Regions from separate parts of the Homo sapiens genome. Here region 1 is linked to region 2. Evidence: fine-mapped expression QTL. Tissue or cell type: whole blood. Region 2 holds a variant in brackets; the other region holds the start of a gene. All regions are shown on one strand. Distances are between the middles of the regions.

Region 1 (8,182 bases), 46 kb after region 2:
CTGGCAGCTCTTAGCAGAGGACAATGATAATAAGGATAGGGAAGAAAAGAAGTAAAAGATGTTTGGATGTCCAAAAGAAGAGGCTACACAGGATGACATGATTATCAATGATACAATGTTACCAATGCCCAAGAACACCTAAATCACCTCATCCAGGCATTGTCAGAATGTAACTCAGTCAGAATGTAACTCGAACTTGAATAATGACTTTGTTTATATAAACGAAGTCTAATGATAGTCCAATAGCTACACAGAAGAGACAGGCCTTAATTTTAAGGGTGGGTGGGGATAGAGGGGGAATGGGAAAAAGCCATCCATGAAGGCTTCAAAAGATTTTGCCAACCAAGCAGGACAGCACAGTTCAGAGACACCCAGCAACAATTGTGAATCCGTAAGCCAAGGTTGGTTTGTTTGTTACAAGCCTACTGATTTAAAAGAAAAAAATCTTATAAAAATAAGGAGTTAAGGACATCTAGATATTGAAAGTTACTTAAAATGCAATTCAAGTGAAACACAAAACATTTGTGAAATGTATGACATTTTACTGCTGCTTAGAAATATTTATCAAGGCAGAACCATTTTTATAAATACATAATTCTGTTTAATAACAGAAGTCCTGTAAGACCAGAGAAATGAATTTGCTGTCACTCATGAAAACACAAGTCTTCTGACATACATATTTAAAAAAGAAAGAAAAAGAAAAACTAATACTCCAATTGGACACTCTGGGAAGCAAAAGATTTCAGACTATAAATCTTAACTGTTACGGTTTGCTTAATTTTGATTTTAAGAATCTCCACTTTTAGCATGTATTAAAGAGGCAGAAAGGACAGGACAAAGAATCAGAGGTTCTGGGTTTCAACTCTAGTTTTATCAGAATTTGGATTTCTTCTTCCTTAAAATTGGGCAATTGAAGTAGGCTACTGAAAAGTATCCAAGTTTAGCACTCATGCTCTAGTTTGAAAATAATTCTTTCTAAAAGAGCTAATAAAAAAATTGCAAGGCGCGGCAGGGCACGGTGGCTCACGCCTGCAATCCCAGCACTTCGGGAGGCCGAGGCAGGTGGAGCAAGAGTCAAGAGATCGAAATCATTTTGGCCAACACGGTGAAACCTCGTCTCTACTAAAAATACAAAAATTAGCTGGGCATAGTGGCACGTGCCTGTAGTCCCAACTACTTGAGAGGCTGAGGCAGGAGAATCACTTGAACCCGGGAGGCGAAGGTTGCAGTGAGCTGAGATCGCGCCACTGCACTCCAGCCTGGCGACAGAGCTAGACTCGGTAATAAATTAAAAAAAAAAAAAAAAAAAAAAAAAAAGTCTGCAAGGCGCGGCCAGGCGCAGTGGCTCACACCTGTAATCCCAGAAATTTGGGAGGCCGAGGCGGGTGATCACCTGAGGTCAGGAGTCTGAGACCAGCCTGGCCAATATGGTGAAACCCCGACTCTACTAAAAATACAAAAATTAGCTGGGCGAGGTAGTGGGCGCCTATAATCTCAGCTGCTCGGGAGGCTGAGGCAGGAAAATCACCTGAACCTGGTAGGCGGAGGTTGCAGTGAGCCGAGATCGCGCCATTGCAATCAAGCCTGGGCGACAAGAGCTAAACTCCATCTCAAAAAACAAATAAACAAAAAATTGCAACACGAGTTAAGCACTTTTATTTTTAATGAAGCATGAAAAAATTACTCTAAGTTATCTTACTAAATTAAAATACCAAAACATATGTGGCATACTAAGGACCACGTATGTTGGTGATTGCAAAAAGTAATATACCTTCCAGGAGTTAACTGTTCACTCTAGAACAGATTTCCTTTTTTTTGTTGTTGGGGGGGACGGAGTCTCGCTCTGTCCCCCAGGCTGGAGTGCAGTGGCACGATCTCTGCTCACTGCAACCTCTTTCTCCCGGGTTCAAGCAATTCTTCTGCCTCAGCCTCCCGAGTAGCTGGTATTACAGGCGCGCACCACCAGGCCCGGCTAATTTTTGTATTTTTAGTGGAGACGGAGTTTCACCATACTGGCCAGGCTGGTCTCGAACTCCTGACCTCATGATCCGCCCACCTCGGCCTTCCAAAGTGCTGGGATTACAGGCGTGACCCACCGTGCCCGGCCTAGAACAGATTTGACTCAAGTTCTAAAATAATAGGATCAAAGTAATTACACACAATACTGGTACTTTTAAGGCCATCTTTCTTTGGATCAAGACCCACAAAATAGCAAAAATATCCAAAGTTGTGCTTATTAGGGTTCAATGTAATTAACTATTGTATATAATATGATTTTATTTTAATTTTCCTTCCCATGGAAAACTGAGTCGTTAGAAACAAATTAAAAAAAAAAGTTCTCACATACAAAAAAAAAAGTTCTCACAGCTCTAAACCTTAGGGATAAATGCTGGGTTTTGATTATAAACATATTTATATATATGCACACACAAATATATATGTGTATGTGCGTGTATATATATCTATTACATATTTGTGTGTGTACACACACAGTTAAGTTCATCCCGATGCTACGGCCATATGCATTTTCTACTGAAAATGTAAGACTTTCAAGTAACTATACATCAAAGAGAAATGTGATTAAATAAGAGCAAAGTAGTATTAACAGGGTAACATAATGAGGTCAGAACTCAACCAGCCAATCGAAGGCATAAAAGCATTTCCTGCAATATTAATAGTCAAAAGAGAAAACCAATCACTGAAACCTCGAGCTTCCTTTTGACAGTCACTGAAGCAAGAGAACCAATCCACACACACCCGAGGTTGACAATAAGGCGGGACTGTAGGTTCATTGAAGAAATTCTTGAGGGTGCAGTTACTATGAACTTCGCACGCAAGTAACACCACTCGAGTCATAAACACTCTCTGTCAAGCCAGATGAAATCCAACCGTCTGCAAAATTTAACCCATCGGAGGAAAAGCAGCAATTTTCCCAAAAGGTGCTGTATTATCAAAATTACAACTGCCAATTTAGATGCACTAGGTCCTCAACTTCTAAGGACCACCTCGCAATGACAATTCTCGAGGACAACGCAACGCCGGCGGCTCGCTTCCGGGCATCCCCGGCTCCTCTCTAACGTTGCGCACGGAGCACGGCCGTCCAGGCGGAGCAGGCAGAGCCCGTCCGCCCCGCGCCCGGCTCGGGTCGGCAGAACTGGCCGGCGGGCGGCCCTCGGACGCTACGACCCGCTCGGTAGTCGTGGCCCCCGCCCTCCCCCGCCGCAGTGCTGCACCGCCTCATCCCGCTGCACCTTCGCGGGCGGGGGAGCCAGGATGATTACATTGCTGGGAGGAAGATGTTTGTTTTGAAAGCACCCTTCCACAGTCATTTCAAAGAGAACTCAATACAAAGCCAAAGTTAAAAGTGGAAAAAATAATAATCTTGCCTAGCCAAATAATACCACGCCATTAATTAGCCCCGCGCCTGAGAGAGGGAGGTGGAAAGGTAAACAGAGACCGTACGCCAAGAGCGGCCAGCGCATCCCCTGCGCCATTCCCGGCCGCCGCTTACGGCAAGGCCCCCTTACGGCAGCGTAAGCAGCGCTGCGAGCTAATCACAACACTGGGACGCAACAACATGGCGGCCGCGGGCGGGCGCTACGCCGGCCGAGAGGGTTTACGCTACTCCGCCGGCGTAGAGTCCCGTGCGTTAGAGCGGCAGCGGCGCCCTCCAGCGAGCGTAAAGCGCTCTGTGAATGGCGAGGCCCGACTGACAAAGGGGAGGGGGGAGGAGGGAAGGGGGGGTAATAAACACTCGAGTCCCTACCGATTCCTCCTCCTTCTCCATCCCGGTGGGCATCTGGGGCACGGCCCGGTTGATGGAGACGCAGTCGTTGAGATCAGGCATGTCCTTGCCGCGGTAGATAGGCAGCGGCTTGGCGGCGTCCAGCGCCCGCGCTCGGAAGGAGAGTTTACTCATTGTCTCCCCGCCTTACAGGAACAGCCCGGGCGGCGGCGGCGGGGCGGGCGGGGAGGGGGGGAGGACTCCCGCCGCCTCCTCCACCTCCTTCCTCAGTGCAGCGCGGCCGGCCCGCTCCTCCTCCTCCTCACTGCCCCCGGCCACAGCATGGGCGCCCACCCCGCCCGAAAACAGCCCCCCGCGCCCGCGGCCGCCTCCACACACTAGATCCGCCGCTCGCCCGCCCGATCCGCTCCCTGCGCCATGGCCAACATGGCGGACATTACCACAGCGGCGGCGAGCGATCCCGGCAGCCCGCGCGAGAGCGCGCCCCCGTCGCGGGAACGCGCCTCGCCCTCTCCCTCCCTCCCTCCTTCCTCTCCCTTCCCCTCCCTCGCCTGCCCACCCACTCTCTCCGCGGCGCTGCCGGCCCGCGGGAGCGTGCTCGGTCTCGGTCCGCTCCGGGGAGAGGGGGCGGGGGCGGCGCCCCTCCGCTCGCTGGCCGGTGCTTTCGCTGTGTGGCAGGTGCCAGGTGCGCAAGTTCGCCCGCGCCCGGGAGCGTGCGCCTCTCCCGCCGCCGCCCGGTCACCCCTCTCGCTGGGTGTCCCGGAGGAAGGCGCCGGGCAAAGACGGCTGCGCCGAGCAGCGCGTGTGTGCAGAAGTCCGGGAGCGGGAAGGGAAAATGTCGACCCGGACCCCACCAGCCATCACCCAAGCCTGTACTTGGACAGCGCTATCCCCAAGGCGCCCTGTGCGCAAGCTAATTCGCATCCTCCGAGGCGCACATCCCCGAGAGGTGCAAGAGGTCTCTCCCATCAGTCCCATCAGTCCGTTCGGAGGACTGGACCGCGCTGCTGGTGCCAGCCCTCTTCTACGCCCTCCCCTCCGTACCTGTCCGAAAGAGCTCTCCAAGGTGCAGCAGCGCGTTCATCCTCGCTTTGCAGTGAGGGTTCATGGTTTGAGGCTGCCAGATGCAACAAGTGAACTTAGGTTCCCTGTCACCCAAACTTCGGTACAGCTGTTTAGTGGATGGTAGGTATTTTTCTGAGTTCAAAAATAGTAGCTTTCCTAAAAGTTCAGCTTCTAAAAATTTAGCCAAGGCAGCACACATTTGCGAAGTAGCAGATGTGTGTCAAATGTGGGGTGCTGTGGAAGACTCGAAGAAATCTGAGAAAAGGTTCCTGCCTCAGAGAGCTTTCACCTTAATGGGATGCCAGGATGGCTGGAAAGATGAGTAACAGAGACGTAAATAGTTGAAGAAAATGACAGCTGGAAAGATAAGTGACAACCGAAAAAAAAGTGTAAATATTTTAAGAAAACAATACAAGAGATGACACAGGCAGTAAGTAGCACATGATTAATTACCAAACGAGATCTAGGCAATAATTGTGAGAGTTCAGAGAAAGGAAAGGAGGCATGACTGCAGCCTAAACTGGTTAGAGAAAGTTCTCAAGAGGAGGGAAAATCAAGGTGACTCAAATAAGTACTAGCTATTGTTGACATCAACCTGGTTTAGCCAAGAGGCTCTTGGTTAGTCTTTAAGCATTACACATTTCTCACAAAACCGTACAAAGAGAGTTTTTAACACATTTTACCATTTTCTAATAATCGATCATACTCTAACTCAGAGAAAGTCAGATGATTTCCTAAAGACCAACAGTGAAAAAATTGATTCCTACTGTCATTTCTATGTGACAATAAAACTATATCTCTTCCTCTATTACGTCCTTCTTCCCCTCCTCCACTTCCTCCCCTCCCCCTTTTTCCTCCTGTTCCTCTTCCCCTTTTCTCTCTGCAGTCTCCTCCTTTGAAGGCAGAATGGTGGATATAGTCTTCATGGTAGTGTCCAAATAGTCTAACCAGTCTGTCGCAGCAAAACTCCGAGTATTGTTTAGTGGGGCTTGAGTGTTTTTCATCCACTTTGTTGTTGGAAGCAATGGAGTTGCTGTGACTCATTTCTTGTAAGCAGTACCTTCCTCAAGCTTATGGGCATGTCCTGCTCTCTAAGTGCTACCCCTGGAACAGTTCCAATCCTCTGGAAGCAAGAACAAGAAGTTCTTGGGAGGGGGTCAGCACTGGGTTCAAGCCTGAAAGGGAAGAAAAAAGCAATAGTTGAAGAAATGAGTCATCCAGAGCTTTCATCTGGATGCCCAGCCCTCCTCAGGTTCAGAAAGGATAGCTTTCTTCTAGTCCCTATGTTTAGTTTTACTGTTTCTCTCAGAAAAGGAAATATCAAGTATGTGTAATATACCATCCATTGTAGTAACATGTTATATATATTATCTCAACTAGTTGAATTCCACTTAATTCTTATTATAATTTTATGAAAAAATATAATTTTACCAATAAGAAAACTGAGCATCAGATAATTTGCCAAATTTCAATTCCAACAACTTGCAGAACTGGGCTCAAATTCAGGTCTGACCTGACTCCAAAACTCTGGTTTTCTCAGTGGTGCTACCCTGCTATCCAAGCTCTTCAGCTTATTGACCAGTCAGCATTCTAAAGCTGCTAATTCAAAATTAGTTACTAAGACCTTCCAACCAACGGCCAAGGGAGCGCATAAGCCAGAGCCTAAAGTTGCAGTAGACCAAGGAGGGCAGGAACAACATCTGTCTGTCAATCACTGTATCCCCAGTTCCATGCCTCACATATGGCAGGCATCTAAAGTATATTTGTTGACTGATATTCCATGAAGAAATTCACTGATACTGACCCCATGCCACTCTAGTTTATAGTTCACATACCTCACTGGCCTGTCACCTGACCTAGCTATTGCTGCCAATATTTGTTCTTACTGTGGCCTACCCTGTTGTCCAGCTTTGTACCTTTGTGCATAGAGATTTTAGAACCAATTAATGTTATTCAAAAACACCTTTTTGAAACCTGGAATTTATAGGAAGGGATTTTTGCTGTTGTGGTTGTTTCTTTGTTGTTCTTTTACTTTGACCATGTAAAAGATTTCTTCCCCAAATCTCCATTTTCTTCTCACCCTGTAGGCAATGATTATAGAGCTGGGAATAAAACCATTTAAGGCAAATAACACAATATACTTTTCAACGGAGACACAGCCTGTGTTTTCTTGGCTTCCAATTCAGTGCCCAAACCGGAATGCCACTGTTCACTTTTGGAAAGTAACTTTTATTTGTATATAAATATTACTTTTCATAAAGTTTATTTCTGATTGATTTGTTGAATACTCATATAATTGTTAGTGCTAAAAGCAAAAAATATCTTCTTATAAAATAAAAAATTCTCTCATGAAATATTTTTATCAAGACCTGCCTCAAATGGGTGTGCAGCCTAATAGCCTATTTTAATTTCCACATACAATGCGCTAAGTATAGTCATTCTAAAATCAGTCCACTTCAGATATGCTCTAGACCAATTCCAAATGACATGCATTTAGCCCAGCAAGCATAATATATAAGCACCCAAGAATTAAAACCAGTTTAAAGCCATATCAAAATAAAATCACTGTCTAAATGTAGTCTAAATTAGAATAAATGTCAAATAACTGTTAGAATTAGGATTACATTCCAGTGTCCATCTCCCAGTACTATAATCAAGGCAGGCAGCTTCCAAATAATGGACAAATTACTTTTTGAAAGGAATCTTAAAACTAGTAAACACAGTTGCTATTCAACTATTTCAGAGTTTTGCAAATGTCACGTTCTTTCTAATTGGCTCCTGGTTTCAGCAAAACCATTTGAAAGTTAATTGGGTTAGTATGTGAACTGCATCTCCACCCCTCCCCCTTATGTTCCCAGGAATGAGCCTAGTACTAATAAAGCTTCGTTGTTTTCCATATGTAATCTGAATGTGGGGTCTGCATTCATTACAATCAACTGGAATCAGTTCTGTGGTTCCAGTGCCCTTTTCTGAGGCAGCTCTGCATCTTTGAGACATAGGGACAGAGACTACACTGAGAGGTGACCTGCCAAACATCTACTTCTACCTCTGCATTTGCCACCGTGGGAATAGCAGATGGTAAATAAAAATTTGTGACTGTGGCTCAGTTTCTTAGCAGCATCGCTCCTCTCAGACCTGGTTGGAATCACAGGGTGCCACCTTGTGTATAAGCTGACGATTTACTTCCCAGCTCCACAAAGGATCCAAATAGACTCCAAAATAATCAGCCTGAAAGCTCTGCATTTTGGTAACTAAAAAAAAAAGAAACAGATTTGAAAACACACAGCTCCAGAGGGTCCACAACACCCAATTTTGAATTGCACTGACAGCCTGTCTCATTTGTTGCCCCACCCGGACCGTAAAACACAACCA
Region 2 (8,182 bases):
GTGTCCACACACAGGCATTTTGCTAGGGCTTAAAATCTTGGAAGCAGACACAAACGGTACATTTCAATTCCCTTTGAGTGCATTCCTCTCTCTGCCTGACAGATGACAAGTTATTACTCCACCTATCCTTTCTCCTGAACTCTTCTTTCAGTCAGGACCGTCTACTGTTCTATGTTTGTAAGACTAAGGGAATGAGATGGGGGAAGTAAACTTTCATTTCAAAATAAGAAAAGAGAGTCCTGCTACCAAGAACTATTTAACTGAGTTCAAAACTGGATACAAATTAACTTCAGAATACTTAAGAAACAATGTCAGGCTGGTGCGATGGCTCACGCCTGTAATCCCAACACTTTAGGAGGCCAAGGTGGGCAGATCACGGATCATGAGGCCAGGAGTCCAAGATAAGCCTGGCCAACATGGTGAAACCCTATCTCTACTAAAAATACAAAAATTAGCCGGGCGTGGTGGCACGCACCCGTGATCCCAGCTACTCTGGAGGCTGAGGCAGAGGAATTGCTTAAACCTGGTGGGGGCGGTGAGGAAGGTTGTGGTGAGCAGATATTGCACCACTGCACTCCAGCCTGGGCAACAGAGCAAGATTCCGTCACCAGGGTTTGGGCGGGGGGAGGAGAATGTTAAGTTCCTTCGTGTTCTACAATTCCAAGATATTTAGTATCAACTGTAAAATGTTATCATATTAAATAAAACAGGTAATAGGAGATCAAATAAAGATACTATTGAAATGTAAACAAAGTTGTTTCCTTAAAGAGAAAAGTTTGGGTACTGAATTTAATAAAATTATTGAACTCCAAGAGGAATGAAAATTATAACATTTGGGTTGAGGAACCCAAAGTAAATGTAACTTAATGAAAGTAGGTAGTGTTTTTTTCTGCATGTGGCACACAACTGAAGTGTTTTACTATCTTAGGTCATCAAAGACTTTGTGCCTTCAGGATGCTTCCCACCTGGTAAAGACAGCTCAATGTGTTATGATTCAATAAATTCTGCATAAAGCTGATTAAGGGTGACTATGAAGAACTGCTACTGAAAGGGATCAGAAGGAACAAGAATGTTTGTCTCACTTTCATAACAGATTGGAGTCCACTCCCAACTCCTTCTCGGCACTTTTTGGGCTAAATTAACAGTTGGTGAATAACAGAACTCACCTTTTAATTTCTAACACAGCGGGTTGCTCAATTTCACTGTATGCACTAATAATTTTAGCCTTATATTTGATTCTGTGTACAATTTTTAGTCCAACAAATACTGATGGCTCGAAAATGCCATGGAGTATATGCTTTTAATTTCATTAATTCTTTCACTCATTTATTTATTCAGCAAATATTTAACTGCACACCTAACCACATGCTATAAGTACTGTACTAGGCAGTGAAATTCAAAGAAAAAAAAGTCCCTTCTCTCAATAAACTCTGCCCAACAGAGGGCAAACAATCACAACTGAAGGTGGTCAGTGCCACAACGAAAGTACGCACTGGACACAGGAGGGGTGGGGCAAACAGTACCAAGAACAATGCTGAGAGACGTCAGAAAAAGGCTCCTAAAGGTAATCCTGGAGGCAAGTTGTATTTTAACAAGTTGAGAAGTAAAAGGCTATGTGAAGACATAACAAAATAAGGCATAACTCAAAGAGCTACAAAGATCTCATTATTAGTGTAGCTTGAAGCATGATGGGTTAAAGAAATTAGGAAGGAAAAGTGTACTGAGACTACACTCTGGGACTGTACTAGGTAATAAAAATTCTAAAGTACCATAAGATGGAGCCCCTGATCGCGAGGAGGTTACAGTGTAGAGGAAGAAAAAGACCCTCAAACAGTTCATTTCAATAAGGTTGGTGTCATAGTGGAAGAACACATAGGGAAACATGGCTAGACAGGCACAAAGGAGTGCCTTATACATCACACAAAGATGTTAAAAATTTTATCCTATAGTCAACAGACAGTCACTGAAAATTTTGAAATGGATAGTAATTACAACAGTGGCAGTGGATGATGGATTGGAAGGTATAAAGACTAGGGCAAGAAGGAGGCTTCTGCCAAAGCCCAGGCAAGTATGTGATGAACCTGAACAAGGCCATCCTACTGTGGCAACTTTACAATGTTTTTTTTCTAGCCAAGTGAATGGGGATTCTCTCTAATCTATCATTAAAAGAAGAAAAGGAAAAATCCAGAGTGAAATTTTCTGAAACTCCTTAAAGGCTTAGCAAAAAGTTACATAAAAAAAATTTTTTTTAACCTTCCTTGGAAAAAATCAGTAATGAGTTTAAAATTTAGTACAGATAATCTTAAGTCCAATAAGCAAATTGTGAAATATCAAACTGATGGAAAATGGTATATGCATTTTAAATGACTACATATAAAAATCTGAGAAACTTAAAATATGACTAGAAAGGCAGAATAAATATCATATGTGCAGTAAGATACTGTATAGTATGCAGTATATGCTGACAAGCTAAAAGAAAAAATGAAAGGTAAAATAATTTCTATTATTTTTATTGTTTTTTACAATAATAGAATAAAATGAAATGAAAAAAACCAACACAAGAATAATGTTTATTGTATTCGATGGGCCTGACCCACATGAGTTACACCCGATTTTTAGTTCTTGGTTTCCTAGAATGGTTTTTACAAATGGTCTTCCTGCCTAACTGCAATATTATCAAAATACAAAATAATTGATACTTTGGCTTAAGAGAGATCCTTAAAATTTCTATTATGAATAGTTATCTCCTTCCTGACTGATAGAAGGTAAAGGCAAATTCAAAAAGCTAATAGGACTCAAAGTCAAAGAACACAGGAGAAAAAAATATACATAAATAATTTTCGCATGTGTGTTTCTCTAGACTATTTCAGAGAAAAGAAATCTGTGGAAAATGGCTGTACCACCAAAAGACTTTTTAAAGCCATTTTAAAACAATTCAGTCGACAAACACATCATTTATTGAGCATCTATAAACCAAGCACTTTACTCTGAAAACACAAAAGAAAATAAAATATATAGTTCCTGCCCTCAAGGAGCTCACAGTCTAAAAGGAGAGAAAGAATGGTTACAAATAATTGCAATAAAGTATGGTGAGTCCTCTAACAGAAGTATGTAAAAGATACTACGATAAGCAAAGAAGACAGGTAGAGTGAGAAAAGTCAAGGTGGCTTTCATAAGGGAGTTAAGTCTTTAATGAGCTATAGGAAGGGAAAGAAGACTTCAATAGCACATCCAAGGAAATGTTAAATATGAAAGAAGGTGAATGAGGGTAATTTTCGTAGTCCCTATGGTACACAGAGTGAAGGGAAGAGCAAAAATAAATGACGTTAAAGGAGAAAGCGGGAACAAATTACAAAGAACCTAATATTCATACTAGAGAATATGACTATTATTGAATTCTATCAAATCTAAACTGCCATCAATTAAAAGACACAACATTACTATATATACCATAAGAAAGAAAAAAGCTTTATGCTTGTGTGTTAATATTAGTATAGAATGCTACTGAATAAAGATACATTACCAAAGGGCTATGCCCTCAGTGTAAGATTAAAGAAATAAATTAGCCATGCAGAAAGGGAAAGCAAAGAATTTTGTATTTCTCAACTTGCCCTTAGGTAGAAAGGAGAAGCAAAAAATCTTCCTGAGAACTGAACCTTGAGCAGATCTGCAGCCTAAATTAAAGCTAATACTGTGGTCCAAAAACAAATGAACAAAACAAACAAGCAAAAACTTTAACGTGGTCTCCGGTTGGTAGTGTCCCCAAATGCCTGG[C/T]AGAAACAAATGAAAATTCTCTTTAGAAGAACAAGACTTCAATCCTGAACAACAGCAATTTAAGATGCAATTTCACTGCAAAGATGAAAACAGTGCATCTCAGAATCAATGAAAAGCAGTCAATCTTATAGTCAGTCTTAAAGCTGGTGATGTTTCAGAATCACACAGGGAACTCTTTAAAAATACAAATCACCAGACTTCACACCCAGAGATTCTCATACAGGTAGGTTGTCAGACAGGTGGATACTTCAGCTAGGCCGGATGTTGAGCCTTGGGATCTCTATTTTAACAAGCTATCCAACATTTCTTTTTTACACACCTGACAAGATAACAAGACACTAGCATCTGTCTGTGGAATCAGCTGAAAAATCCTACTCTAGAAGTTCTTTTGGAGAGAAGCTAGATTAGAAGAGTATAGGGACAGGAGATACAGGACAGTAAATATAACAGGAGATTGTTAAAAGTCTTCACGCTAGAGGTGGTGATCATTTAAATACTAACAGTGGGAGAAAAGTAAGAGTATTAAGGAGGCAGAACTACACAGAATTCTTTAATAAAAACTATATGAAAGTAAAGGCATTAGATTTGATTCTGAAAAATTTCAGAAGACTACTCCTGGGCATTAGGGCCACTGGACCTTTAAAAGTAAATCTCAGGTGGGCGCGGTAGCTCACACCTGTAATCCCAGCACTCTGGGAGGCCGAGGTGGGTGGATCAACTGAGGTCAGGAGTTTGAGACCGGCCTGGCCAACAAGACGAAATCCCATCTCTACTAAAAATACAAACATCAGCTGGGTGTGGTGGCACACGCCTGTAATCCCAACTACTCAGTAGGCTGAAGCAGGAGAATCACTTAAACCCAGAAGGCAGAGGTTGCAGTGAGCCAAGATCATGCCACTGCACTCCAGCCTGGGTAACAGAGAGACTCTGTCTCAAAGAAAAAAAAAAAGGAAATCTCATTTGGGTATAGTAATCCACCACCTTTTAGCTATGTAATAAAGTATAAGTGCTATACAAAATCCTATACTACATAAATATCAAATGTTCCAAATGTTACTTAAAACTCAAAATGATTTCCAAATTCAGATGTAAGCACAGAGGGATTTTATTCTTTAATGTTTAACATATCTATTAATCAGTGTGTATGAATTAAAAAATCAGAATTTCTTTAGACAAAAGAAAAGATTTCCACTGGTTGATAAATTTAAAGTACAAACAGAAAACAATGAATTAACAAACTTACGCTGAATATGAATGAACTGTTTTGGCTGTTTAAACTCTCCTTTGTACAAGCGATTGTAATAGTTGACGTTGCTCTCTGCCTCAGGAACAGGAATGACCATACTCTCTTTTTTTTCTCTAAACACTTGCTGTGCTGAAATTGCTCGCTGTAAATGATGTTCCTGGAAAATGTAAAGTAGGCAACATAAGTTGTTTTAGTAATATTAATCAATGCATAATTTTATATAAAAGTTACTTTGTTTAATAATCACAAAGTGCTTTAAGAATCAATTATAAATAGTTCCTTTGCCAAAGACCTACAGTTACATTGTCATCATTCTCTCTTAATACTCGTGGCTCATACTGATAACACCTTAGATTATTACAATTTTTGTAAGTAGAATTTTTTAAACAAAATTAAATATATACTCAGAAACTAGAATATAAAATTTCAATTACAAAAAATTAATCTGTTTGCTAGATTAATTGAGGTGTTTGTCACCACTACCAGATGAAAGAAAAATTCCAAATTACAGGAAATAAATTTGTATCACAGATTTTAAGTATCTTCTGCATTTATTACTTCAAACTTTAACAGTACAAAATTCTGAATATTTCAAAGAAAGATAAAATTATGTTCAACAAGTTTTATTACTACCAGGGCAGAAAATATTTTTAAATAAAGGTTAAATGAACAGTTCCTATAACATATATCCAGTTTCTAATCACTTCATTACTTCCACAACTTACTGAAATAGCCTCCTAAATAGAATTTTCCCTCCTTCCTCCCTTCCCCCACAATGGCCCATTCCCAATAAAACAGTTTTACCTTTTGGAAGGTAAATCGTGTCATGCCACCCACCCCATAAAGGATTTCTGATCTCCATCCTATTCAGAGTAAAGGTTAAAAATCACTCAATGGCTGGGTGGTGGCTCATGCCTGTAATCCCAGCACTTTGGGAGGCCAAGATGGGCGGATCAAAAGGTCAGGAGATCGAAACCATCCTGGCTAACACAGTGAAACCCCGACTCTACTAAAAATACAAAAAAAATTAGCCGGGCGTAGTGGCGGGTGCCTCTAGTCCCAGCTACTCAGGAGGCTGAGGCAGGAGAATGGCGTGAACCCAGGAGGCAGAGGTTACAGTGAGCCGAGATCCGCCACTGGACTCCAGCCTGGGCGACACAGCGAGACTCCGTCTCAAAAAAAAAAAAAATTTCACTCAATGACCTACAAGACTCTGCATCTCTCTTATCTCATTTCCAACCTCTCTCCTCTCCAATCTTTAATTCTAGCCACACTGATGTTGCTGTTTCTATATATCCAAACGGTCTGCTTTCAAAATTGCTTCCAGTCTTATCTTAGCAGAGAGGCCTTCCGTGACTTTTTTTTCTAATCTAAAAGAGTACTCCTCCTCTAGCATTCCTTCCCTGTTTTACTTTCCTCCATACCTTTCCTGTTTTACTTTCCTCCATACCACTTTGCAACATCATAGTAAAGATCTCATTTGTTTACTGCCCCTCTCCCCCTAGCATAAAGTAAGTTCCAAGGAGGCAATGATTTTTGCTTGTTTTGTTAATTTCTTATCCCTAATGCCTAGTACAATGGCCAAAATATAGAAGCTGCTTAACATACATTAACTGAATGAATAAATGAAATCTTTACTGGATTCCTACTATATGTCAAGCTATGCAAAATGCATATAAAGAAACTGAGGCATAAGGATGTTTTGTAAGTTGTTGAGGTCAAACAGTTCTAAGTAACAAAACAGAAACACAATTCAGGATATACATATATATGCAAAGCCAAAATTCTTTTTTTAAAATTTTATTATTATTATACTTTAAGTTTTAGGGCACATGTGTACAATGTGCAGGTTTGTTACATATGTATACATGTGCCATGTTGGTGTGCTGCACCCATTAACTCATCATTTAGCATTAGGTATATCTCCTAATGCTATCCGTCCCCCCTCCCCCCATCCCACAACAGGCCCTGGTGTGTGTGATGTTCCCCTTCCTGTGTCCATGTGTTCTCACTGTTCAATTCCCACCTATGAGTGAGCACATGTGGTGTTTGATTTTTTGCCCTTGCAATAGTTTGCTGAGAATGATGGTTTCCAGCTTCATCCATGTCCCTACAAAGGACATGAGCTCATCATTTTTTATGGCTGCATAGTATTCCATGGTGCATATGTGCCACATTTTCTTAATCCAGTCTATCATTGTTGGACATTTGGGTTGGTTCCAAGTCTTGCAAAGCCAAAATTCTTAATCCTAAGATATTACACCATTTTTTTGGAAATTAGAAGGTCTTAATTTCATTCAAGCCTTTAGGGTATGTGAAATGTTATTATACAAAAGGAATTAGTGCAGTGATCCAAAAAGAAAAGTTTCGTTCAGCAAGACATAAATAAAATTAAACTGAAGGTCCATTCTATGCAAAATACACAGTAGATTAGTTTGATTATAACTAGTACTTTAAAAGGAAGGTAAGATGATAGAGGGGGATAGATACCAAATAATAAGAAAATAATTAATTTCATGATCTTCTGCCAGTAATTACCGTTAAAGAAAGCAGAGAGACAGAGACATAAAAACAAACGGGAAAGAAAAGAAATACAATATGAGGAAGTGGGCAAACAAGCTTCTATGCCATAGACAAGTGAACAGTAAGCCAGGGCAGCTATTGGGACTCCCACAAGCAGCATCGTTTTGTCAGATCCAATCAAGTCATACCTGCTTTTCCCCAAATAATCATCTATACTACATCATAGTCAGCATCTCTTTGGCATTTTGTCAGAATAAGTTAAATCAAGAAAGCATATTTAAGAAAAATGCCATGAAATTTGGCTAAGGAACAGAAGTCTAGGAATAGCTAAGTAAACTTAAAAAGCAGCAGAAAATGTGGCATGAGAACGGAGACCTGCCTACTAGAAATCACAAAATATTATAAAGCCACATTTTCTGCTCCTTTTTAAGCTCACTAAGTGCCACTCTAGTGAACACACAAATAATAACGAAGCAAAACAGCCTTATTGGTGAGACAGAGAAAGTTTCAGTGGTCTGGTCAGTGGTCAATGTCAAACCAGCCACAACATTCCCGTAAGCCAAAGCCTAATCCAGGGCAAGGCATTTCAATTCTATGAAGGCTGAGAGAGGTGAAAAAGCTACAGGAAAAAAGTTAGAA

The links. PIP is the estimated chance that this variant, and not a neighbour inherited with it, causes the effect.
Region 1: it holds the start of EPC2, and the variant in region 2 is fine-mapped to the expression of EPC2 in whole blood (TOPMed, PIP above 0.99).

The regions. Positions count from the first base shown.
Region 1 is chr2:148,640,755-148,648,936 of GRCh38, reverse strand. EPC2 (enhancer of polycomb 2) reads right to left here and starts at 4,186. Exons shown (of 14, transcript NM_015630.4): 1 at 3,767-4,186. The coding sequence starts at 3,919. RefSeq lists enhancers at 2,863-3,012, 3,609-4,113 and silencers at 3,103-3,192, 3,953-4,532.
Region 2 is chr2:148,687,209-148,695,390 of GRCh38, reverse strand. It overlaps EPC2 (enhancer of polycomb 2), which reads right to left. Exons shown (of 14, transcript NM_015630.4): 2 at 5,018-5,177. Among named protein-coding and RNA genes, the nearest start is that of EPC2, 47 kb to the right of the region's middle. The variant C/T (reference allele first, on the strand shown) is at 3,775.